7 linked regions of the Homo sapiens genome follow. The protein of the gene in region 2 interacts with the protein of the main gene of each other region in a pairwise test. Each region holds a gene or a part of one and is shown on either strand. Other genes may lie near its edges.

Region 1 (3,500 bases), on a different chromosome or scaffold from region 2:
AAGGAGGAAACTTTTTTCCCTGCAAATGTATCTCTGAAATAATGATGGAAGTCACTGGAAGTGAGATCTTGCTGTAAAAGGTGTGCTTTGCTCCAGCTTTTCAGAAATATCTCTAAAATATAAAGCAACGTCAAATCAGGCCTACAAAGACATGGTGAGTCACCATCAATCAGAATTGGGAGAACAAGCTGAGAACCGCTCACACAACTGAATACCCTGGATAAAACATCTCTATCCTGAACCAGAAAATAAATGTCTACAGCTGCACTTGGCGGTTGGCCCTAGGGTCCATTCACCATATGGTCACCCTTATTATCATCCTCCCAACAAGTCCGGCAAGATAACAGGCTAAAACCACGCTCTTGCAACTGGCCTGCAGGCCAAGCAAACATCTCCTTATCATAACCTTGGTCTGTTCTTCCAAAGAGACTTCCTGCCCATCTCCTCTGTCCTTGCTTCTTGGTGTATATCTAATGCTCAACCTGGGCACGCCAAAAGCCCAGTCCTCTCGTGCCCGATGCCTAGAATTAAGCTGCTTTTCAGAGGGAAAGGGTATGTGTTAACAAAACAAAACAAAGAGGCCTCCTTCCTGGACCTTTATCTAAGGCAGGATCTAGCTGGTTTGGGATAAAACCTAGGGTTTTAGACTAGGGAAGAAACTTAAAGATTATCAAATGCAGTCATTTTTCAAAGCTTATTTTATTTTTAAGATGGAGTTTCACTCTTTGTCACCCAGGCTGGAGTACAATGGCACGATCTTGGCTCACCGCAACCTCCGCCTCCTGTGCCCAGTCCATTTTTCAAAGCTTTTTAAACATTACGAGGGCTGGGTGCAGTAGCTCATGCCTGTAATCCCAGCACTTTGGGAGGCTGAGGCAGGCGGATCACTTGAGCTCAGGAGTTCGAGACCAGCCTGGCCAACATGGTGAAACCCCATCTCTACTAAAAATACAAAAATTAGCCGGGCGTGGTGGCGCACGTCTGTAACCCCAGCTACTCAGGAGGCTGAGGCAGGAGAATAGCTTCAATCTGGGAGATGGAGGTTGCAGTGAGCCAAGATCATGCCACTGCACTGCAGCCTGGGCGTAAGACAGAGTGAGACTCTGTCGCAAATTTTAAAAACACTACAAAGTTGTATTTTTTCCAGTGAGGTTGTATGCAGAAACTCAGTAAATAGAAAATAGACATAAAACAAGCTGTTATGTCCATACAGTGGAATAGGAATATGGCCATCAAAAGAAATGAAGTCATGATAAATGCTACAACACAGGTGAACCTTGGAAACACTATAGTAAGTGCAAGAAGCTACTCACAAAGGAAGGCAAATTATATGATTCCATTAGTAGAAAATGTCCAGCAGAAGCAACTATAGAGACAGAAAATAGAGAAGTGCTTGTGTAGGGCTTGGGGAAATATGGGGATTGAGAGGTGATGGCTAAGAGGTACAAGGTTTTGTCTGGGTGTGGTGGCTCACATCTGTAATTCCAGCACTTTGGGAGGCCAAGGCAGGCGGATCACAAGGTCAAGAGATCGAGACCATCCTGCCCACCATGGTGAAACCCTGTCTGTACTAAAAATATGAAAATTAGCTGGGCATGGTGGTGGGCACCTGTAGGCCCAGCTACTTGGGAGGCTGAGGCAGGAGAATTGCTTAAACCCGGGAAGCGGAGGTTGCAGTGAGCAGAGATTGTGCCACTGCACTCCAGCCTGGTGACAGAGCGAGACTCCGTCAAAAAAAAAAAAAAAAAAAAAAAAAAAAGGAAGTGCAAGGTTTCTTTTTGGAGCAATGAAAATGTTCTAAAATCGACTGTGGTATGCGTTGCACAAATCTCTGAATCTAGCCTGGCCTGGCTGACCTGGCAGAACCCCTACATACTCCTCTCCTGGATATGCCCACCAATCACCTGGATATTGAGACCATCGATATCCTGGAAGACACCATCAATGAGTTTGAGGGTGGTATGAAGCTAGTCAGCTATGACTCTGGACTCATTCAGCAAGTGAGGTCCTGGCCAGGTGTGAGGTACAGCAGAGAGTGTCTAGGTGGTTGGGTGGAGCAGTCATGGCATATGAAGGGGCGTAGTACTTGCTTACTGAATTAAGAAAAGAGGCTCAGAGTGTAGACACAGGTGGCAAGGACCAGATCTTACGGCTCTACTTATGGGGCTACTTTGAAAGTGTTAAATGAAACACTTCATTTCTTCAGTAGCTACTTGGAGATGTTAACCAACTTGGGATTGTTGAGCCAAATGGGGCAGAGAGTTGGGTAGAAAACAGGGTGCTTTTGCTACTGGTCCCAGGATTCTTCAATCCAAAAACAGGATTCTACTAAGAAGGGCGTGGACTAGACAGGGGACTGCCACTGTCACTGGAGAATAAGCTGCAGGTCATTTCTCTGAAGCTTTGGAGAAGATGGAAATGGAGGGGGGGGGAAGGAGGCTGAGAGTGAAGCCTCTGAACAGATCTGGACAATGGGAACGTCCAGACAGAAGGAAGTGACAATGGGAATGACACAGTAGCTCCAGCTTAGAAGGCTCCAAAGCTTGCGGGTTATCGTGTCCTTGGGATAGACCATCCCAAAAAACTTAGAGGTAGTGAGGCAGTGTGCAGGATATGGGCTTGTGGGGTAGGGCAGGAAGATAATGCCATTTTCTTCCTTAGAATCCCCTTCCATCAGTCTGCTGGGCAAGAATGGGGACAGTGACTGGGCCAGGATTAAGTCTAGGATTTGTTTTCCAGGTTGCCTAGGAAATGTGTGTCTGTGGGAAGCAGAGAATCAATGAATGGCCTGGAGACACCCTGGCCCACAGGGAACACCTCAAGTCCAAGCTGGTAGATGAGAATCCCCAGCTCACCAGAAGAACATACAACACATGAGCCCTCTGGTCTTGGGTTAGGACCTCCGTCTGGAGACCAACAACTGCTACCCATTGACCAGTCTCTCAGACAACGTAGAAAAGTGGTTGCCTAGGGCTTGCAGGGACAGGGGGATTGGGAGGTGATGGCTAAGAGATGTGGAATTCCTTTTTGGAGTGATGAAGGTGTTCTTTTATTTTCCTTCAACTTTTATTTTAAGTTCTGGGGTCCATGTGCAGGATGTGCAGGTTTGTTAGATAGGTAAACATGTGCCATGGTGGTTTGCTGCACAGATCAACCCATCACCTTGGTATTAAGCCCAGCACCCATTAGCTATTCTTCCCAATGCTCTCCCTCCCCACCCCCAACAGGCCCCAGTGTGTTGTTCCCCACTATGTGTTTATGTGTTCTCATCATTTAACTCCCACTTATAAGTGAGAAAAAGCACAGGTATCTTGGAACCCAAAATAATACACAATTTAGGCCGGGCGCGCTGGCTCACACCCGTAATCCCAGCACTTTGGGAGGCCGAGGTGGGCAGATCACGAGATCAGGAGATTGAGACCATCCTGGCCAACATGGCGAAACTCCGTCTCTACTAAAAACACAAAAATTAGTCAGTTGTGGTGGTGCATGCCTCTAGT
Region 2 (2,154 bases):
CTCGCTTCTCTACCTCGCTTCTCCGCTCAGATACCACTTCCTAGGTGAGGCCGTCGCTGACCGCGCTGTTTAAAATCCAGTGCTTAGAACAGTGCCTGGTACCCAGCAGGCAATCGGCAAATGCCTGCTTAGTCAGTACATGCTCAGTCAATGGCCGCAGCCTGCTGCTGGGTGCCTTTGGATTTGGGTCCCAAATGCCGGCCTCCAGAGTGGCGGACACATTTAACAGATCTGAGGTTGCCTGGGGGATGTGACCCCAGAGAAGGACCAGTAGGGCGAAGGCCCCGAGGGGACACGTGTTTTGGAATGTTTGAGACGGGTGGAGAGGCAGCCTTGGCTAGAACCCAATTTGTGAGGGGAGCTCAGATGGGCGGGCATGTCCCAGAGCCAGCGCGAGTCTGCGGGTCTTGCAGAGACTCTGGGTTTCCTGAGACCACCGGAGACGCACAGGCCCCGAGGACCGGAATGGGTTAACACCTGCCCTCCGGCCCCTGTTGACAACATAGATGGTTTGGGAACTCGAGATGAGGCCGTGGGGCGGGGGATACTGACACCCACTTACTCTCTCTGAGTTCAGGAGCATTTACCCAGCCTCTGTACGGCGCCCGGGGCTCGACTGGTGGGAGGGGTCCGGCAGAGGCCCCGCCTCGAGATCCCAGCACGCCCCGCCCCGCTCCACGGTGTAGCACAGACTCCGCGGAGAACGCGAGCATGGTCGGAAATCATCGCCTTTATTTCTTGGCGGGTCTCGAGGGAAGGTCGGGAACGGGCGGGTCCTGCTGGCCTAGAGGGCGTCAGGGGCAGCCACCGGCGGCTCGGGATCCTCCTCGTCGCGAGCGCGGGGGAGCTCAGGTCCGGCCTGCCGGGGGCTGGGTGAGGCTGCGGACCAGGTTCCTACGCTCCTCGCGTCCGCCCGCGTCTGCCCTAGGCCTCCACCGCGGCTTCCTCTGTCCCCGGGGCCGCCCTGCTCCCCACAGACCCCACTCTCGGGGGCCGCTCCCAGGACCCCCGCCCGCTCTCTCCTGACTCGGTCCCTGCCCGCCCCGCCTCCCTTCCTCGGGCTCCCTACCTCTCCCTCGCCGGCCCCGACCTCGGGGGCGCTCCGGACCTGCTCCCCGAATATCTCCAGCTCCGCCTTCAGCCTGCGGAGAAGGGGCCGAGGAGACAGGAGGAAGAGAGCGAGAGTCCAGGGGACGAGGAGGAAGCCACCGAGACGCGGAGACCCGACGACGCCGAGGGAGGCACAGGCCGGGGAAGCGGCAGTCGGGGGCGGAGCGGGGGACCTGGGCGGGTTCCCCTCCGCCCTGCCCCTGCCCTCCTCGCCCACTCCTCCCTTCCCCTCTCACCCGTCATTCACCGCCATGGCGCCCTCGACCTCAGGCGGCGAGTGCAGCCGCCGCTCCACCTCCCGCAGCTTGGCGCGCACCAGCCTCCCTGTCGGTGGGCGGGCGTCAGGGGCAGGGCCGAGGCCCGGGCACATCCCCCTCCCCCCGCCCACCTGGCGCGGGAGGCTCACTCTCCGAGAGCAGCTGCTCCTTGCTTCTCTCCAGGGCACGGATCTCCCGGGCCAGTCGCTGCTCCAGCATCTGCGAGGACAAAGAGGAGGCCTCCCCGTTTGGCCGTCCTCTTGGCTACACGGCCCGCCCCTCCCCTTTTGTGCTTCTCGCGAAGTCTTCACCTACATTAGGTCATTCATTCATTCAACTATTTATTAACTCAATGTGCAGTTCCTGCTGTGGCTGGAGACCCACCCACCTCCCCCTAAACGCTCTCCATGTCTCCAGGCACCTCTCAAACTTGAACTCTTCCCACTCTCCTCATCCTCCATTCCCCAATCTGCGGCTCCTCAACGGTTTCAGGCACCGTCCAGCCCCAGGGCCTTCCTTCTGCACCGATACCTGCACGGCTTCTTCCCTCACTTCCTTCACCTCTGCGTTGAGATGTCACTTGCTTAGAGGCCTTCCCACTGAAGTTCCACGATCTAGCCACTAACTTTCTTGGTGCCTCCACCGTCCCCAACCAGCTTGGGACAGCAAAGACGTGGACTCTTTGATCTGCTACCCTCCCTCCCTGCCTCAAATGCTGACCGGTGCAACCACTGACATTAGCTAAATGAAGGAATGACCTGACCATGGCTTTCCCTGGGCTGCCATT
Region 3 (3,241 bases), on a different chromosome or scaffold from region 2:
TATAAGCAAATTTATCAAGTTGACAAGAACCCTTGTGTTTTAAGTATGTTGACAAATGAAAAGTATATAAGGGGACCCCTCAGAAGAAAAGCATCACAACCACACCTTTCTGATACAGATTCCAAATGATAGGGCATCTTAAAACTAGTTTGAGTAATCCTTAAAATGCTACAACTAGTCCCATGGCAAAGCTGTATTATTTTCATGCAAACTAGTTAACAATTTGGAGTTAAGGCAGAACCAGCATTTGGGTGTTCATTTTGTTTCCAGGGTAATTTCTGTGAACAATGCCAAGGATTGCAGAATTGAACTTCATGTATTGGACAAATCTCAGCCTAGGTGTCTGTTAGTTTTTAAGCTATATATTGAATCTAGTGTATATATTGAATACACTAGATTTTTAGTGACTAATCTAGTAATACACTAGATTTTTGGTTTGACTCAAGCAAAATGAGTAAATGGAAGTGGGAGTGGAAGATTACCTAACTTCATACTTTAGGAAAGGTACTGATAAAAGTTTTGGTTAGCCTATATAGAGAATGGTGATAGGAATTTCCCAAGTCGATGCAATTGCGAGAACCAAAAATAGCTGGTACAGAGAACTTACCATGTAAGGCTGCTGAAGTCAGCCATACTGTGAACCTTAGGTAAATGCTGTAATTTCAATTTGTCTTCTTTTCGATGGCAGTTATACTATGATGGAATCCAGGTCCAAAACCTATCCTTAAGCTTAAAATAAATACTAATAAACTATCCTCTTCCCTAGAACTACAACACAGGAAAAAACCTGAAAGGTTTTGTGTAAGTTTCAGTTTCTAGTATTTTGGTTGCATTCTTGTAGGCAATTTGTAAAGCAAGAGGGACAGAGTGCATCTCTAAAACCTCTTACACAAATTAGGAAAAAGTTGTACCCAGGTGGTTACAAATCTAAGAGCAAAATCTTAAAAAAACCCAAGATTTATTTTTGGCTCCTAGACCAGTTTATTTCACTTTCCAGCATTCAAAGAAATGTGATCTGCAAAAAACTAGATACAAAGGCCTTTTACTTCTTTACAAACTACGGTTAGTTCTCAATGAATTTACATGCCTCACTTTTTATTCCAAGAAAAATCCCCATTATGCAATACAAGGGTGAAACAGCTGTTACAAATACACAGAAACATAATAAAGATAACCAACACTGTTAAGAGGAAGGGGAAGAGGAAAAAACCCAAGAGAAGGAAACTTTTCCACAGTGACTAGCAGAATGTCTTGTAGATAGCAATAACCGAAGACAAACAGGTTGCTCACTTCATCCTATTTATCAAGTCATCCTATCTAAAATGAGAATAGTTCATGCCTAGGATAGGCTAACTATAGGCTTTGCTAGTCCTCCTTCCTAATAGAATGCCCTCAGATTATTCCTGAGCTATCACTCAAGTCACAGATACTTCAGAATATAATCTTAGGTTTTGTAAACAGGAACATGGTCAAAATGCAATACAATGGAAAATCTCTACAAGAGAATGAGATTTGGAAAGCCATGCTTAGAGTCTCTGAGCCACACAACCATAAGATCTTCGAGTACGTTTAATCTCTCATCCAGGAACATTATCCATTTACCTTGTAAGGTTGTGAGAAATGAATAGCATAATATGCAAGAAGCTATCACATGATGGGTATTCTACAAAGGACAATTTTCTCATCTGTAAAATGGGAATAATACCCATTTCCCAGGAGTGTTTTTAGGATTAAATAGAAATATTTGAAAAGCACATGGTTCGGCACAGTAAGTGCTCAATAATATTGACAGCATTCAGTATAGAGAGAAACAACCACAGAAGAGATCCTAAAGCAATTCATTCAACAGATGCAAAAATTAAAGGGCCTTTTCTGATTTACCATAATTAAATATTTTAGAGAACTACCAACTGTTGTTATTGTAGTTATATATGTATTTACCTAATTTTTTTTAAACAAAACCCCAACTCAATATGCACCTTAATTCTCCCCCTTAAATGTCTTAACTTCAAAAGGAAATGGAGAAGGGAGGTAGAGGGCAAAAAAGTCTATAGCCTCTACATATTCTTTTAAAAATACATAGAACCTCTGTCCATAAGAACCCCTATGTTAATGAGTGTATAACGGTATACAACAAAATACTTTTTGTAATTAAATCTAGTCACTTTGACTCTAAGTAAATTCTAGATCCCATTATATCAATGTTACTATCTCCATGAAAATAAAGCTATAAAAACACTTCCCCATTGGATTAAACAACAAACATGGTAACAAAAGATGAAACAAGTGAAAAATTATGGGCTGTAACCTAGGATCTGACACTTGCTGTGTGATCTTGGGCAAGTTCAAACAAAATTTCTAAAATAAAATACAAACAATAATACCTCCATTTCACACCTCCCTTGAAAATATACCTCTGCTATATTTTCAAAATTGCTACAAATTAAAAGCTTAAATTCCACTTCCAGATTTTTAGTTAATTTTATATGGAAAATTTTAAGTATGTGGCAAAAAAGATGACAAAAATCAAATGTGATGAAATCAATGTATAGGTAAAGAAACATCATATCCTAATAAGAAACTAAGGAATCCAAAACATTTTGTGATACTATAAAAGTTATTTATTCGCTATACACAGAACATGTCCCCTATAAAATGTACATGTAAATCACTAAAAAGTATAATTTGGTGAACATTTTCTCAATTACAGAACATACTAAATCAGTTAGGATAACAGCTCTCTGTCTGCCTCAAAATAATCTAATTATAGCACCCAGTCTCCTTTATACCTAATGCAAAGTTAAATACTTATTTTGGGGGTTATATCCTAGCATGTGTTTGGTGAGGCAGAGTAAACAATTTATTATAACTCTAGTATATTACAGTCACTGCACAATAAACCAGTTTATTACAGATTAAATCATTTTTTCATTATTTATAATAATGTGATCAAATACTGGATACTTTTAAATGGCAGATAACCACACAATTACTTATCCTTGATCGTATATTGTGTTCTATAATTACATTGATACGAATGGTGTAAAATATTGTTATGAATAACACACCTCAAACAAAACAATGAGGCCATACTGTAATGATTCACTAGATTGTGCTCAGTAGACATTTACTGAATAAGGGAATTATCTATTTTTCTCAATTATCCAGTACAATGATTTGCCCACAGTAAGGGCTCAATAAATATTTGCTGAATATACTGACTAGGAAAGAGGTGAGAAGA
Region 4 (3,500 bases), on a different chromosome or scaffold from region 2:
CCTGCCAGGCCTGCCCTTCCTTCCCTCCTCTCCGCTTCAATCCTCCTTCTCGCTCAGCCACGGCTCAGGACCTCCTCCCCGCAGAGCCCTTCCAGCCCCCTGCCCACTCTGTTCTCTGCCTCTCGGAACTCGGAGAAGAACACTCATTGTTAGCGGCACTGTTCAGGGCTGAGCCACTGCTGCTCTGTAATCTTGCTGGCGTTCCTCCTGAGCCCCAGCGCCTCTCCCATTATTCAGACTTTCAAGCACTCAGGAGGGAGGGCTGGGCTGATGGCTGGGGAGGGAGGTAATTGCTACTCTGGCAAGGTCTTTTGTCGAGTATTTGGGCCCTGGATCCAGAGCCAGGGAAGTTCAGCTGCATCTTCAACTCTCTGGTTGACCTTGGGAAGTACTTGACCTCTCTGACCTTCAGCTTCCCCATCCTTGACATTCAGAGGTTAATCTTTGAAGTAACTGCCTGTTCTGGAACATCAATGTTTCCATCTCTGATAGCAGTGGCACCGAGCGTTGTTGGTGCTTGCCCTGTGCTAAGCTCTCACATCCCCATGCCCATCCTATGAGGCAGGTCTTGTTATCACTCCCATTTTACAGATGAGGAAACCGAGGCACAGGAAGTTAAGCTATATGCCCAACATTACAAAATTAAGAAGTAATTGGACCGTGATTCAAATCTGGTGCTTTAAGATGCCTTCTTTCCTACCTACAACTATTTATTGAGTACATACTCTGTGCTGTGGGCCTGGGAGTCACTGATGATGGGTCTGACAGGGTCCCTGCCCTTGCAGGACATTTAGACTTGTGACAGATAATAAACAAGCAAACAAACACTAAATTAAGATCTAACCACAAAGTAGGGCAAATGTTCTGGAAGGTTTGTCCATGGACACAGCCAGGAGGCGGCGTGCTCGCAGACAAGTCATTTTATCTCTCTGAAGCTATATTCCATGCGTGAGGGAGGGATAAGAAGACTACTGACCTCAAACGGTTGATGTATGGATTGAGTAACTTTGGCTTGGCATGGTGGCTCACGCCTGTAATCTCAGCACTGTGGGAGGTCGAGGCGGGCGGATCACCTGAGGTCAGGAGTTCGAGACCAGCCTGTCCAACATGGTGAAACCCCGTCTCTACTAAAAATACAAAAAATTAGCCAGGCATGGTGGTGGGTGCCTGTAATCCCAGCTACTTGGGAGGCTGAGGCAGGAGAATTGCATGAACCTGGGAGGCGGAGGTTGCAGTGAGCTGAGATCACGCCATTGCACTCCAGCCTGGGTGACAGAGACAGACTTTCTTTCTCTCTCAAAAAAAAAAAAAAAAAAAAAAAAAAAGGATTGAGTGGCTTTGCCTGTGTAAAGCACTCAGCGCATAGGGATTACTCAATATACAGGGTTGGTTATTGTTGTTATGACAACTAGATCCAGAGAAGAGGCCAGGATGGTCCCTCGCCCACCCTGTCCTCTGGATGTCTTCACATGGGCATTGGGTTAGCCCTGGGAGAGAGGGCTATGGAGGACTGACCTTTATGTATCTCCTTCTATGCCCCTTTTGCCCCCTACACCCTGCCCAGGCTGTTTCATGTTTCTGGGCCTTTGTTCCAACTGAAACTCCTGCCAAAAAGGCCCTTTCTCCCCTTAACCTCCTGGAAAACTCCTACTCATCCTTCAAAACCCCATTCAGACCTCACCGCCTCTGAGAAGCCATCTTGGACATGCTGATTCCCTTACTCCTGCCCTCAGAAAGGGGTGCTGCTGCCTTAGCCTTAGCATCCTGTGCCATCGTCTCCTGACTGCTCTCCTAAGAACTGTGTCTCAAGGCAGCTCTGTCAGACAAGCACCCAGCAGCAATGAAGTCAGTGCTCAGTGAGGGCTCATGAAGGGGTCTGGGCTGCCAGGGTCTGGGTACCTGGGGGAAACCTGAGGGGGTCTGTGAAATCTATGCCTGGCAATGCTGAAGGGGTCCCGGAGCCCTGGGTCCCACTCCCCTCCTGGCACCTGTGGACTGGAAGACGCCTGGGTTGCAGAGGCAGTATCGAGTGGCAAAGGCCTCCATCATCCGGTCTATCTTCTGGGCCTCGCCCGGCAGCCGGAAGCTCCACAGGAACTGCCTGGGGGAGAAACGGGGCCACGGGCAGTGGAGTGGGTGGGCCCTCGCGGGCCCCAGACAAGCTGCCCTGCCTCTCCCAGGTTTAGTCTCTGTATCCTGTAAATGGGGGAATCTGCAACTGTCATCTGGGCTGACGGGGAAGTGGGATGGGCACCAGGGAGCCCCAAGCACGCGGGAGGTAGCCAAGAAATGCCTTTTCTTGCAGAATACGGAACTAAGCACACGCCCCGCTCTGCAGGTCTGAATCCCAGCACTGACTGCAGCCCAGTCTGCCTCAGCTGGGAAGGGGGACGGCCTCTGCCTGCCCCGGGGTCTGTGGCTCCCCGCACCTGGCCTTTGGGCCCTGAGATCTGGCTGTGGGACCTAGTTGGGGAAGAGGTGGGGCAGGGGTTTTGCCTTGCTAGGGCTCCCTTTCTTGGAACCTCGACTTCCCTCTAGCTCTGGAAGTTGGTGGTTTCGACAGCTTCAAGCTAAGTTCTCTGAAGGTGAGAACTGGGCCTGTATCTCTCACTTCTCCTCCTGGGCTTCACACAGTCCTGGGCACCTAGCAAAGGCTCAGTAAATAAGTGAATGAATGAATGAATATGTGAATGAATGAATGAAAGAATGAATATGGGAGACTCCCAAGTCACCTACCCCTCTCCCTTAAAGAGCTGGGAGTTAGAGAACACTGGATGGTGGTGGCTTCTTCCTTCTCTGTATTGTGAACTCCTACTCACCCTCCAAAGCCCAGATCAGATGCTCCTTCTCGGAATCTGAGTTTTCAAGCAGCATCAAGACTTACTAAGCACTCACTGTGGACCAGTTTTAAACACTTTCCCATTTAGTCTTCACAACCCTGTGAAGTTGGTACTATTATTATCCCCATTCTACGGATGAGGAAACTGGGGCACAGGAAGGTTTATTTATTTTTTTGTGAGACAGAGCCTCACTCTGTTGCCCAGGCTGGAGTGCAGTGGTGTGATCTTGTCTCACTACAACCTCCACCTCCCAGGTCCAGGTGATTCTCCTGCCTCAGCCTCCCGAGTAGCTGGGATTACAGGCGCCCGCCACCACGCCCGGCTAATTTTTGTATTTTGTGCATGTGTATGGCTTGCTTAAGGTCACACGGGGGTGAGCAGCAGAGCTGGGATTTGAACTGTATAGTCTGGCTCCAGAGTTTGTGCTTCAAACTGATAATTGGACTGCCTCTGCAGTTGTAAAAATGAGTACCAAAAACAGTACCCTAATTAGAAGCTAATAAGTCATAATAATTGGAATACATGCTAAGCAGTCTTATAAAATAAATAAAACATGCACTAATCCAAAAAGTAGGAGAATGACCATAATAAAGTAATAATGATTAGAATGATTAAATATGGGCATGATAGAATTCTAACTAAGAAGGCAGTATTTGCTAT
Region 5 (3,500 bases), on a different chromosome or scaffold from region 2:
TGCGGCTTATTCTCTCCCACTCAAGGCCTCCCACTGCCCCACCCTGGAGGTGCCAGTTGCATTGCCATCTGTGGATGGAGTTGTGCCATGTGGCAGCTACCCGTTTTCCAGCATCCACTCTGCTCATTCACTTTCTAGGCCTTCCTCTCTCTGAGCCCTTCAATGACCACCCTTATTCCACAGGATAAAGTCTAAACTCAGCCTGTCCTTCAAGGCCCTCATGAGTGAGCTACACTCTCACTTATTTTTTTTTTTTTTTTTTTGAGAAGGAGACTCATTCTGTTACCCAGGCTGGAGTGCAGTGGTGCGATCTCGGCTCACTGTAACCTCCGCCTCCTGGGTTCAAGCAATTCTTCTGCCTCAGCCTCCTGAGTAGCTGGGACTATAGGCGTGCACCACCATGCTGGCTAATTTTTGTATCATTAGTAGAGACGGGGTTTGACCATATTGGCCAGGCTGGTCTTGAACTCCTTACCTCATGAACTGCCCGCCTTGGCCTCCCAAAGTGCTGGGATTACAGGCATGAGCCACTGCGCCCAGCTGCTCTCACTTTCCAAACATATTTCCTATGGACTCCATTCTGTTCTCCACTGGGATTGGCAAGCTTTATCTGGAAAGGGCCAGATAGCTTTGTAGCTCACATAAGGTTTCTGTTGCAAATTCTTAAAAAAAAAAAAAAAAAAAAAGCTTACAATTCTTTAAGCAAAAACAGGCTGGGAGCCAGGTCAGGCTTATGGGCTGTAGTTAGCTGACCCCTGCCCTGCAACCCTGTCCCATCTTGACCTGCTGGAATCCAATGTGTCTGATTTCTTCCTTTTGTGTTCTGACTCTGTCTCCTAGGCTGGGCTCCCAAGGCCCAGCTGGGCAGGGGCAGGGGTTTCCACTTTCCCTTATGAATGATTCCTCTGTGCCCCCTAGGTGCTGTCTCACTGCCACCATGCCGGAAGTGTAAGTAGTCTCACTGCCATCTGGGGCCCCAGGAAGGCAAGTCCCTTTGCCACAGACTTCAGCCCCGCAGTGGAGGCACCATGTTTTCAACCCCCAAAGCTTTTCCCTAAGAGACCAGGTCCTCAAACAGGGGCAGCACTTGATGGTTTCCCCTGTGCTGCCTGTGTCCTCCCAGCCATTGAGCAGAACTCACTCCCAGGTTGCCCTGGGAGTGCCTTTTTGGCTTGTGCCTCAGAGATTTCCTGTCTTGATCTATCACATGAATTGCATGTACCAGGCCACCACTTAACACTGGTGCAGTAGGTGAACAAAGCTTTGGGAATTTACCCACGCACCCGTGGATGGATGCTTTCACGTTGCTGGAACCCTACGCTAAGGCTTCCCTCCCCTTCCACCACTTGTCCCCAACTTACGATGCCCAGTACCTCCCAATAAGAATGCCCCGTAGTTCAAAGGGCTGTTGAATTTTTATTTTATTCTGCCGGAACCTCAAACCGCTCCCCTTGCCTGATGCCTGATGACTTTCTGGCTCACTGTTGTCACTGGCCCCCTCCTCCCCCAAGCTGGTCTGTGAGGTTCTGCGACTGCACATGTAATCCTCATTGTTCATACTCACTCTGTGTTCTGCTCTTTCCCCGTCCTTCCTGTGATGGATGCCTGAAGCGAGGTAAGTGATATTTGGGGTATCTCTGTCTTGGTTAACTCTAACGACTGGTAAAAGTGGGAAGGTGGGGTTGGCATCTGAGGAGAGGGAAGAGCCTGTGTTAAGGCCTGGTGGGAGTCCAGGGGGTGTAGGGTATTTAGTGGCTGAACAAATTCCCAGGAGATGGAAACGTCAGGTGAAGATTCTGGATGTGGGGCTTCCTAGTGTCCAGGGAGTTGCTGTGCCAGTGTACCATGTCACTGGAAGGACTGGTATTGCAGCAGGGTTGGGTGTGACTCTGCATCCTTGCTGAGCACAAGCTCTTCCTCACCCACTCTGAGAGCTGGTCCAGTCCTGGGGGGACCATCCTATTCCATGCAGAGCTGATCCTGTGCAAAGCTATATTGGAAGGGTAAGGGATAGTCATTGGGTTATTCCACCCTTGCCCAATGGCTGAACATTGATTGAGGAGCAAAGAGATGTCCTTAAATCCCTCAGGTGTTAGAAAACCCTGACACTGGCCATTCTATACACTCCAGACTTACCAGGCTACTGAGATCACAGCCTATGTACAGTCCAAGGATGGGGATGGCAGGGATAGGGATGTGGGCCCAGGGATGGAAACAGTGAGAATTAGCAGTATTGATGGAGGGGATATTTGGCACAGAGATTCTCAGTAAGAATTGAACATGTTACTTTTCAACATTCATATGAATTTTTAAGTTTTGCTGAGGCTCGTATTAAAGTGAGTCCTCACTGACTGATGGTCAAATGAGGTGGCCATCGGCTCACCAAGTGGTGGGGAAATAAGATCGCAGTCAAACATTTGCCATGTGTACATTACAGTGTGTAAACCATGGTAGTAATGCTTAGAGTCATAGGCTCTTTCTTTTGAAATTGCACTTATCTGAAATGTAACAAAAATCTTTAGGAGAGGAAAAGACAAACCAACCACTCTGAACAGTCAGAATAGAAGTTACACATTCCATTTGCTGAAACTCATCCATTGTCTCTCATGAGAACTTCCCTCTCAAAGCCTAATCACTTCTACTTGACACCCTGGAATAACATTTGAGAGCCATGCTCTGCCGGCTCACAGCACATTAAGTCTAGGTAGGATGCTTCCTGCTGGCAATGAGAAGTGACCGCCTATGGCCCAGAAGATACTCTAGTGCTCGAAAGGCATCACAGTCTCATTAGTTGGGGACCAAGCAGCCCTACTACTCACCTTTGCCAACCCTGAGGGACCACTGTCACAGGGCTAGGACTAGTAAGCAAGAACATGTTTAGGATTTTTGATAAGAAGATAAAACAGTGGTTTTATATCTTAGAAAGATTTGTATGGGTGGTGTTAACATTTTTAAAAGTTTTGAGGTCTACATAGATACGTTTCATTTATTTGGGAAATTCACAGCTTATTTATGCAGCATGACGGATCATCAAGGTATTGCTGTATTACTACCTGGAGTGTGAAAACACATAGCTTTTACGATTTTCAAAGGATTTGCACATCCATGATCTCATTTCATCTGCAATAACTCTGTGAACTAAGTAAGGGGGGGGGTCCTAATATCCTTATTTACAGATGAGGAAGGAGGTGCCTGTAGAAGCCATGTGGCCCTCATAGTATCTTACAAGATTTCAGCAGCAGCAGAATCAGAGTGGGAAGTTAAGGCTTCAGCCCCTAGGTCAAGGTAGCTGACTGCAGCCTTCTCTGAACTGCAGAGGTTAAATAACAAAGATGAGCTTTTAAGGCACCGTAGGGTGAGCAGAGGATTCCGGATAAAGATAGAGAACGCTGGCTGGCACTTGTCTTGTCCTAGACCAGAATTCCAGTTCTGCAGCCTCTGCCTCACCACCTGTCTCTCTCTCTTCTTGCCCACAGAGAAAACCCAAGATCACTGCCTCC
Region 6 (4,281 bases), on a different chromosome or scaffold from region 2:
CCAGAATGGCAGCAGGAAAAGCAGAAGAGTCAGGGATGGTCACAGAAGCCAAGGGAAGACAGTGTTTGTAGAGTGAAATGGGGGCAGCAGTTTCAGATGCCGCTGAGAGATTGAGCAAGACAAAGCCTGAAAAAGTCTCATTCCTGGTTTTTGTTTTAGCAGAGATGAAGAGGGAAGCCATACTGGCTGAGGAGTGAGAGACAAATAATAGAGGCATTGAATATGGCAGTTCTTTAAAGTTTGCCTGTCGAAAGGGATAAGGGATTGGACAATAACTGGAAACTGAAGGGGAACGTGGGGTCAAAGAAGATTCTTTTTTTCTCTTTTGTGATGGGAGACTTGAACATGCTTCAAAACCATGGCAAAGAGCCAGCTGAGATGGAACAGGTGATCATACAGGAGAGGGAATGTATACCTGACAGGGTAGAGTTTTTGGCGAGTGGAAAGCGATGGGATCCAAAGCACGGAGAGGGAGTGGCCTTGGTTAGGAGGAGGAAGGAAGGTAGGAACAGATATAAGTAAGGCTTGCAGTTTTGGGAGCTGAAGAATGAGGGGATTCCCATGTGACAGCTTCAAGCTTCTCTATGAAGTGACAGCACAAGGGCGTGGTGGGAGATCAAATCTGAGGAAAATGGTCATTTATGAAATGCAATCTCCTACAGACCCTCAGCTAACCGTGGCAATCCTACTCTGTTACTTTGGTTAATTGGGGTTTTACCTGATGGCAAAAGAGAAAAGATGGGGCTAGGAGTTTAAGAGAGTGGCAAGGGTAGGGCCGGGCGCAGTGGCTCACGCCTTTAATCCCAGCACTTTGGAAGGCCGAGGCAGGCAGATTACCTGAGGTCAGGAGTTTGAGACCAGCCTGGCCAACATGGTGAAACCCCATCTCTACTAAAAATACAAAAATTAGCTGGGCATGGTGGCGTACACCTGTAATCCCAGCTACTCAGGCCGAGGCAGGAGAATTGCTTGAGCCCAGAGATGGAGGTTGCAGTGAGCCGAGATCTTGCCACTGCACTCCAGCCTGGCCGACAGAGTAAGGCTCTGTCTTAAAAAAAAAAAAAACAACAAAAAAAGAGAGATTGGCTAGGGGCCTTAGCTCCTTGAGGGCAGGGACCTGTCACATTGATCGCGGTATCAGCACCCAGGTACTTACTATTCAAAATGATCAGCATACGGATGATCATTTGTCTGCATCTCAGTTTGCCTCTTTTGGTGCTTCTCTAAAAAATAAAAAAGGAAGAGCTTAAACTCCTACATGATTCCTGTCTTTGCGCTGGGAAGAAGGCTCTGGGTTCTTTTGTTCTTCAGGACAGTCCCTTGTAAAGCTCTTGCCATAGTTCTGTTCCAGGGGCACTGTCATATTTATACCTAACAAAGCTAAGGGGTGTCTTTACATTTTTAGCTTGTTAGCAGGATGCTTATATGGCCTTGCTGACCCGGTTTAAAAGTTGCAATTTGCAAAATACATACTGAAAATACTGCACTTTTACCTATGGAAGTTGTAATTTATATAAGGAAATTGTAATTTATATAATCCTTTAAAAAACTTACTCATACGAAATAACAGAGAACGGGGAAATACCATTAAGACTGTCATGCTCAAGTGGGGGAGGGGCAGACTCAGGGAAACCAATTAGGAAGCAAGTAAAATAATCCACGCACCAGATGATGGGGGCCTGGACCAAGGTGGTGACAGTGGCGGTTGAGAGAAATGGTAGAATTGTGAATCTATTCTGGGTGCATTTTGAAGGCAGTGCTGACAGACTGAAGGTGAGGAAGAGAAAAACAGGACTCAAACAGGATGCAAGACTCGGGCAACTGGAGGATGGAATTTCCAGCAACTATGATGGATTAAGATTGTGGGAGGACAGGCTTGGCTTGGGGAATTATTGAGCGCTATCTTGGACGAGCTGTGTTTGAGATGCCGTAGACATCCAAGTAGGGATGTGGCAGGCAGCTAAATGCAGGGATCTGGTGTTCAGGGGAGGGGCGAGGGCTGGGAATGCACACTTGGGGCTCACTGGAATTCAGATAGGCTCTGAGTACAGGCGACTGGATGAGTTCATCTAGGGATTGAGTGTAGACAGAAAAAAGGCTCAAGCTCACATTCAGCCGTGAAAACTGGTCTCTGAAAAAAGTTAACCGTTGGCTTAAGTGTGGCAACGAAACGTTAACACGCTGAGGGGAGGGTGTGGATAAAGAGCCCCGAGGCTGGGTGAGTGGGGGACAAACACAGACAGAGAAGACATTTCAAAAGATTTAGATTCCTACGAGATAGGGAGATGCCAGCGCTAAGGTTAGAAAGAAAAACTAATCCAAAGCAAAACAGCAAGTAAGCAGAGGCAAAATCGGAGGTCAGATAGAAGATTCAGATAGAAAAACCCCAAAGTTCCCTCGGTGGGGCGGCGGTGAGATCGGCCTCCGCCCCCTCGCCAGACCCAGGCGCGGCCCCGGGAGCGCTAGGTCACCTCGGCCCAGGCCGTCCCCCTGCCCAGCGGGCCTGAGAGTACGTGTGTCGCCGGGGCGCCCGGTCACTGCCGAGCCGGGGTAGCTGTTCCTTGGCAAACTGTGCCGCGAGGAGGAAACGGCGGGGCGCCAGCGAGGCAGGCAGGGGCGAGGACTGAGTGACCGGCGATACTGGAAGCCCAGAAAGAGCGTAGCAGGAGGGTCCGGAAGGGCCCAGAGCTGGGGCTGTAACAGGGTAACCGGCTGAGGGGGACGACGGCAGCAGCGGGGCCGTTACCTGCTCCGCGCTGTTCCCACGACTGCGCCAACGCCGCAGCGCCGGCGCGTCCCCATGGAAACCCGCGCGCGGGGCCTCCTGGGAAGCGCCGGCCTGCGGGGGCTGGGCGCGCGCATGCGCACTCGGGCAGCAGGAGCCGCGGCGGGGAGGGGCGTCTTGGGCCTGGAGGTCAGTGTGGCCTCGCGTTTGTCTTCGGTGACGGGAAGTGAGTTTCTTGTGTAGACGTCTGTAAACGATCCTCCTGCCGTCCCTGTTCGGCGCCCGGGACCCTGCCTTCCCGCGTGGCCGCACCGAGACGAGGGAGCCTGTCACGCGCTCTGGCGCTCTCCTGACCTCTTAAGGCTCTGTCAGTCTTAGGTAACTTGAGTCAGTAGGTGGGTGTAGACGCCTGGTCAATTCCTGGGAAGCACAGTTCCCCTATTAACCCCTTGTCATAAAGACGATTTTTTTTTTTTTTTTGTAAAACAAAATCTGATGACAAAACAATGCATGTTTGGCATAGAGAATTTAGAAATGTACAGGCAAGTCCAAAGCAAAAGTCAAAATCACCTAGATGATGGAGTTATAGATGTTTTTTAATGACAGCATAGGAATTTGGCATAATTTAGGAAGACTTACATTGTTTCCTTTTATTTATTTACTTTTTTTCCTGCATCAAAGCCATGTTGAATATCCTTGCAGATGAATCTTTGAGGTCACCCCTGACTGTTTCCTTAGGATAAATTCCTACAAGCGAGGTTGCAGGGCCAAAGCATATGCTCACTTTGAGGCTTTCTAAAGGTAGAGGGAAACTGCCTTCCAGTAAGTGTCCCGATACTTGGCCCGCATTGGAAATTCTCTTTTTTCTTAAAATTTTTTTGCCCATTTTATTGTCAAAAATTGGCATCTTTAATTGTATTCACTTCCTTTTTAGTAGGAAGAATAGACTTTTTCCCATATCTTGAGTGCCATTTGTCCTTATTGTGTGATTTGCATTTTCCTGTCTTTTGTCCATTTTAAAACTTGACATTCATCTTTGTAAAAATGGGTTTTGTAAGGACTTTTGATGCTTGAAAACTTGGCTTGTGATATACGTTGCAAATATTTCCTCAATTTGTCAGTTACCTTTAATTTTGTTTACAGTGTATTTTGGTATTTGTGTAGAGTCAAGCTTATTACATTTCTCTATAGTTTCTGCATTTGGTTTTTATATAAAAGGAGAAACGGGTGTTTTTTTTCAAATTGACTTTAATCCTACTTTGGTAGAAGTGGGTTAGGACAAGCTTTCTCTCCATATCACCATTTCTTCCTCTAGAAATGCATGACCCACCCTGAGTTTTGGTGGGCCATGCATTTCTAGAACTCCTTAGGTAGGGAATTATCCGTATAAGATGGGTGCCGGTTGTTTTTGCTGGTGGTGGTGGGCGGGGCAACATCTCCAGGTAGGCAAACATTAGACAAATGTCACTCTAGACTTGACATTATGGAAAGATGGGCTGATGCTTGGTGGGTGGTGGTGGCCCCATGACAGTAACGAGAGCGGAGTTTTGCCATTG
Region 7 (3,465 bases), on a different chromosome or scaffold from region 2:
GTTTGGCATCCATATACTAACCAGAGCTGGCCAATCCCCCAAACCACAAGAATGTTGAAAAATGACAAGCTGTATGGCCACCCCGCCTTGGCCAGCAAACATGCCCCTCGTCCCACCTACCACCCCGTAGTTTTTGTATCCTGATCATTGTCCAGTAAAACCACAATCCCACTGTGCTCGAGGAGTCTCTTTTCCAGACTCCCTACTGCAGTAGCTTTGAAAAAGTGTTTCCTTCAACTCTAACTAATCTGTTTCTGCTTTGACCATTTGGTTTCTGGGCTAGGCCATTTCACTGGATCATCTGGAAAACAATGTCTGGGGATGCCCACCAGAAGAGTGTCTTCTCCTGGAGTTTGGAGGTAGTTGAGTATGGAGGAGGGAATGGGAGGGTGGATCTCACCATATCGTCCTTCTATTGCCATCCACTAATTATTCCAATGTTCACTAACTCTGCAGGGCTCCTGCAGTGGGTTTAACCAAAAGACTTTCACACAACACCAGCAGATTGCAGTTATGTATTCAGTTTCCTACGTACTTCAACAACAGGGGCCATGGGAAGGAGAGGAGAAACATTGGGAGAGCTGCCTGGCTGGAGTAACTGACTTCTATTAAGTAATGGGTTCCTATGCGCACTTTACAAAATCATCTTCCTACAGGAAAATCGGCTTCCACAGGGATAACACGGGTTGCAAGGATCATATGGGCTGCACGGGTTGCAGGGGCTGCAGGGGTTGCAGGGGCTGCAGGGGCTGCAGGGGCTGCAAGGAGAAGTGCAAGGGTAGCAAGGAGACTCGATCTTGACACAGCTGCCGAGCCCATAGGAGTATGTTACATCCTTCTCATCCACACAGGGCGGCAAGCTGAACTCTTTGCAGATGTTCATGTAGCTGTACTTTTTCGATCCAAGGCAGTCGTACCTGTTCTCCCGCTCAGCCGACACACATACCTTTCCATCCTTCACTCGAACTTTGACTTGATCGGGTTCAAAACCGCATACATTCACCGATCCTAAAATGTTACTGCTACAGCAGGAGGAAGCCAGAATTCTATTTGTTGTTCTTCTCAGTCTGGAATTGAGAAAAGGGATAGGGTGGGAGGGAGCTCAGACCTCAGAATCCAGACACAGCTTGAGAAGCAATATTTTGATTTCTAGCTTTTGAAATAGCCAAAGTTAATACTAGCCATTGTGAAAATAAACTTTACACAAATGCATGAAGTAAAAAGTGTGAGTCCACCCATGCGAATCACACTGCCCCGCAAGTACACAGCTGTTAACAATGAATGCGTGCTGCCTGCCCTTCCAAATCTTCTCTCGTATTGAAATACCAGCTCCTCCTCTTATTATTGATCCTTGTGTAGGTTCCTTAACCCTTCTGTACCTCAGTTTCCTCATCTGCAAAATGGAGATAATAATAATGATAACAATAATAATGCCTGCATCATATAGGGCTATTGGAGGATTAGATGAGATTATGATATTTTACTTAGCACTGTGCTTCGTACATTATAAATCCTGCTTAATTATTACCACTCTCATTATTATTACTGTAATTAAATTGTGTATATAACTATAATTAAATTATATAAAAATTATATTTTATATTTATATAGATTAAAAAATGGGATATAACTAAGATACCACTTAAAATCTGCATTTTAGAGATGGCTGTCAGCTTTCGAACCCAGCCCTACTGGTTCATGGGACAGGTGCTACCTCTTGCAATTGCACAGAGACAGCCTGAAAGCTCAATCAAACAATGATGGCAGGAGAGCCCTGGCCTGGCTCTGCCCAGGCTGGTGTTGTGTGAAAGTCTTTTGCCCAGCGCCTGGCTCCTCCAGGCTGGGAAGTCACTCTAGCCTCTGGACAGCTAGCACTAGCAGAAAGGCAGTCAGCTGGGTGGGGCCGTGTTGATCAGATACAGAACAACCTCTCAGTGGTGTCCATAATCAGGATCACATCAGCTAGCAAGAGCTGATCGTGTACATCTCTTCCCGATCCCCAGTTAGTACTGCACGCTGATAGCTTGAAATCAATCATAGTCATGATGAGGATATTTACACCATGGAAATTGGAAAATGCTACATATTAGGGCTCTCCTCTGTCCTCACTGCAGAGCTACTGTGGTTCCTACCTTGTTGCTATTCACTAATTCTATTGTGTAAATCCTTAATAAAAATAACAACAGCAGCTCACACTAATTGATCAGTTATGATCCGTCAAGAGGTAGTAAAGCAAAGTGCCTAAGAACAGACTCTGGAACTGGAGTATCGAGGTTTAAAGCTTGGCTCTAACATGTGGATAACTTACTTCTCGGTGCCTCAGTTTCCTCATCTGTAAAACTGGGACAATAAAAATAGCCTACATCATAGGGTTGTTGTGAGGCTTAAATCAGTTAATGCAAGAAAATATTTACAATAATACTTGGCACATAGGATGTTAAGGTTTTGTCTTTTCTTTTTTTTTTTTTTGCAATGTGCTGTGGAAGGTGCTAAGCATGTTAAAGGCATATTTCATTTAATCTTTACAATAATAACTGTGATGCAGATGTAATTATCACTATATCACTTTTGTATGTTGAATTTTGTTTATGCAGTTACTTCTTTTTGTTACATAAGTTATACAAGTTCATTGTAGAAGACTCAAAATACAGATAAGTAAACATATGGACTATTTTAAAAATACCTATAATCTCATATAACCCTTAGCATTTTGGTGTTTGACTTTATGTGAGTGTGTGTGTGAGTATGTGTCTGTGTGTGTGTGTGTGTGTGTAGTTCTATATACATGTAGAGAGAGAGTTTTGTATGTGTTCTTATGAAATCATGCTATACGTACTGATTTTTATCTGTATTTTCCACTTAAGCCCTAACATGATTAGATAACAGTTTGAGTGCTCACTACCCTTGTACTGAAAGTTACAGATCAAGACTCTTAGTGGCTAATTATAAAATGATCAAACAGAACTCAGTCCCAGAAGACACTGAGGCAAACAGAAACAACTTGTGTAATACACCCAGAGGACTGTATTCAGTCCCATTTCTTTTTTTTCTTTTTTCTTTTTTTTGAGACGGGGTCTCGCTCTGTTGCCCAGGCTGGAGTGCAGTGAGGCGATCTCTGCTCACTGCAAGCTCCGCCTCCCAGGTTCATGCCATTCTCCTGCCTCAGCCTCCTGAGTAGCTGGGAGTACAGGTGCCCGCCACCATGCTCGGCTAATTATTTTTTGTATTTTTAGTAGAGAAGGTGTTTCACCGTGTTAGCCAGGATGGTCTCGATCTCCTGACCTTGTGATCCGCCCACTTCAGCCTCCCAAAGTGCTGGGATTACAGGCGTGAGCCACCGCGCCCGGCCTCAGCCCCATTTCTACCTCTGGCCCCATGAAACCTGGGGGTGGCATGGGGCATGATTGTCTTTCTTGCCCTGGGTGTGCCAGGGTACCCTATGCCACACTAACAAGAAGTAGGAGA

The links.
Region 1: the proteins of SYCE1L (region 2) and CALN1 interact in a two-hybrid assay, tested with the Homo sapiens proteins (one large-scale study listed by BioGRID).
Region 3: the proteins of SYCE1L (region 2) and SRSF10 interact in a two-hybrid assay, tested with the Homo sapiens proteins (one large-scale study listed by BioGRID).
Region 4: the proteins of SYCE1L (region 2) and CYTH4 interact in a two-hybrid assay, tested with the Homo sapiens proteins (one large-scale study listed by BioGRID).
Region 5: the proteins of SYCE1L (region 2) and TNNI1 interact in a two-hybrid assay, tested with the Homo sapiens proteins (one large-scale study listed by BioGRID).
Region 6: the proteins of SYCE1L (region 2) and LCA5L interact in a two-hybrid assay, tested with the Homo sapiens proteins (one large-scale study listed by BioGRID).
Region 7: the proteins of SYCE1L (region 2) and ODF1 interact in a two-hybrid assay, tested with the Homo sapiens proteins (one large-scale study listed by BioGRID).

The regions. Positions count from the first base shown.
Region 1 is NC_000007.14:72,101,339-72,104,838, forward strand, and holds part of CALN1 (calcium-binding protein 8), read right to left. Parts: intron 1-3,500. UniProt on the Homo sapiens protein: Negatively regulates Golgi-to-plasma membrane trafficking by interacting with PI4KB and inhibiting its activity. May play a role in the physiology of neurons and is potentially important in memory and learning.
Region 2 is NC_000016.10:77,211,562-77,213,715, reverse strand, and holds the end of SYCE1L (synaptonemal complex central element protein 1-like), read right to left. Parts: intron 2,130-2,154; exon of another isoform or gene 1,785-2,129; intron 1,688-1,784; exon of another isoform or gene 1,587-1,687; coding exon 1,517-1,586; intron 1,435-1,516; coding exon 1,347-1,434; intron 1,143-1,346; coding exon 1,070-1,142; intron 860-1,069; coding exon 785-859; 3' UTR 501-784; downstream 1-500. UniProt on the Homo sapiens protein: May be involved in meiosis.
Region 3 is NC_000001.11:23,963,847-23,967,087, forward strand, and holds the end of SRSF10 (serine/arginine-rich splicing factor 10), read right to left. Parts: 3' UTR 501-3,241; downstream 1-500. UniProt on the Homo sapiens protein: Splicing factor that in its dephosphorylated form acts as a general repressor of pre-mRNA splicing. Seems to interfere with the U1 snRNP 5'-splice recognition of SNRNP70. Required for splicing repression in M-phase cells and after heat shock.
Region 4 is NC_000022.11:37,299,508-37,303,007, reverse strand, and holds part of CYTH4 (cytohesin-4), read right to left. Parts: intron 2,102-3,500; coding exon 1,989-2,101; intron 1-1,988. UniProt on the Homo sapiens protein: Promotes guanine-nucleotide exchange on ARF1 and ARF5. Promotes the activation of ARF factors through replacement of GDP with GTP.
Region 5 is NC_000001.11:201,415,231-201,418,730, reverse strand, and holds part of TNNI1 (troponin I, slow skeletal muscle), read left to right. Parts: intron 1-918; 5' UTR 919-937; coding exon 938-948; intron 949-1,611; coding exon 1,612-1,615; intron 1,616-3,476; coding exon 3,477-3,500. UniProt on the Homo sapiens protein: Troponin I is the inhibitory subunit of troponin, the thin filament regulatory complex which confers calcium-sensitivity to striated muscle actomyosin ATPase activity.
Region 6 is NC_000021.9:39,442,979-39,447,259, forward strand, and holds the start of LCA5L (lebercilin-like protein), read right to left. Parts: upstream 2,801-4,281; 5' UTR 2,747-2,800; exon of another isoform or gene 2,472-2,746; intron 1,768-2,471; exon of another isoform or gene 1,666-1,767; intron 1,224-1,665; 5' UTR 1,157-1,223; intron 1-1,156.
Region 7 is NC_000008.11:102,558,054-102,561,518, reverse strand, and holds the end of ODF1 (outer dense fiber protein 1), read right to left. Parts: intron 1,068-3,465; coding exon 635-1,067; 3' UTR 501-634; downstream 1-500.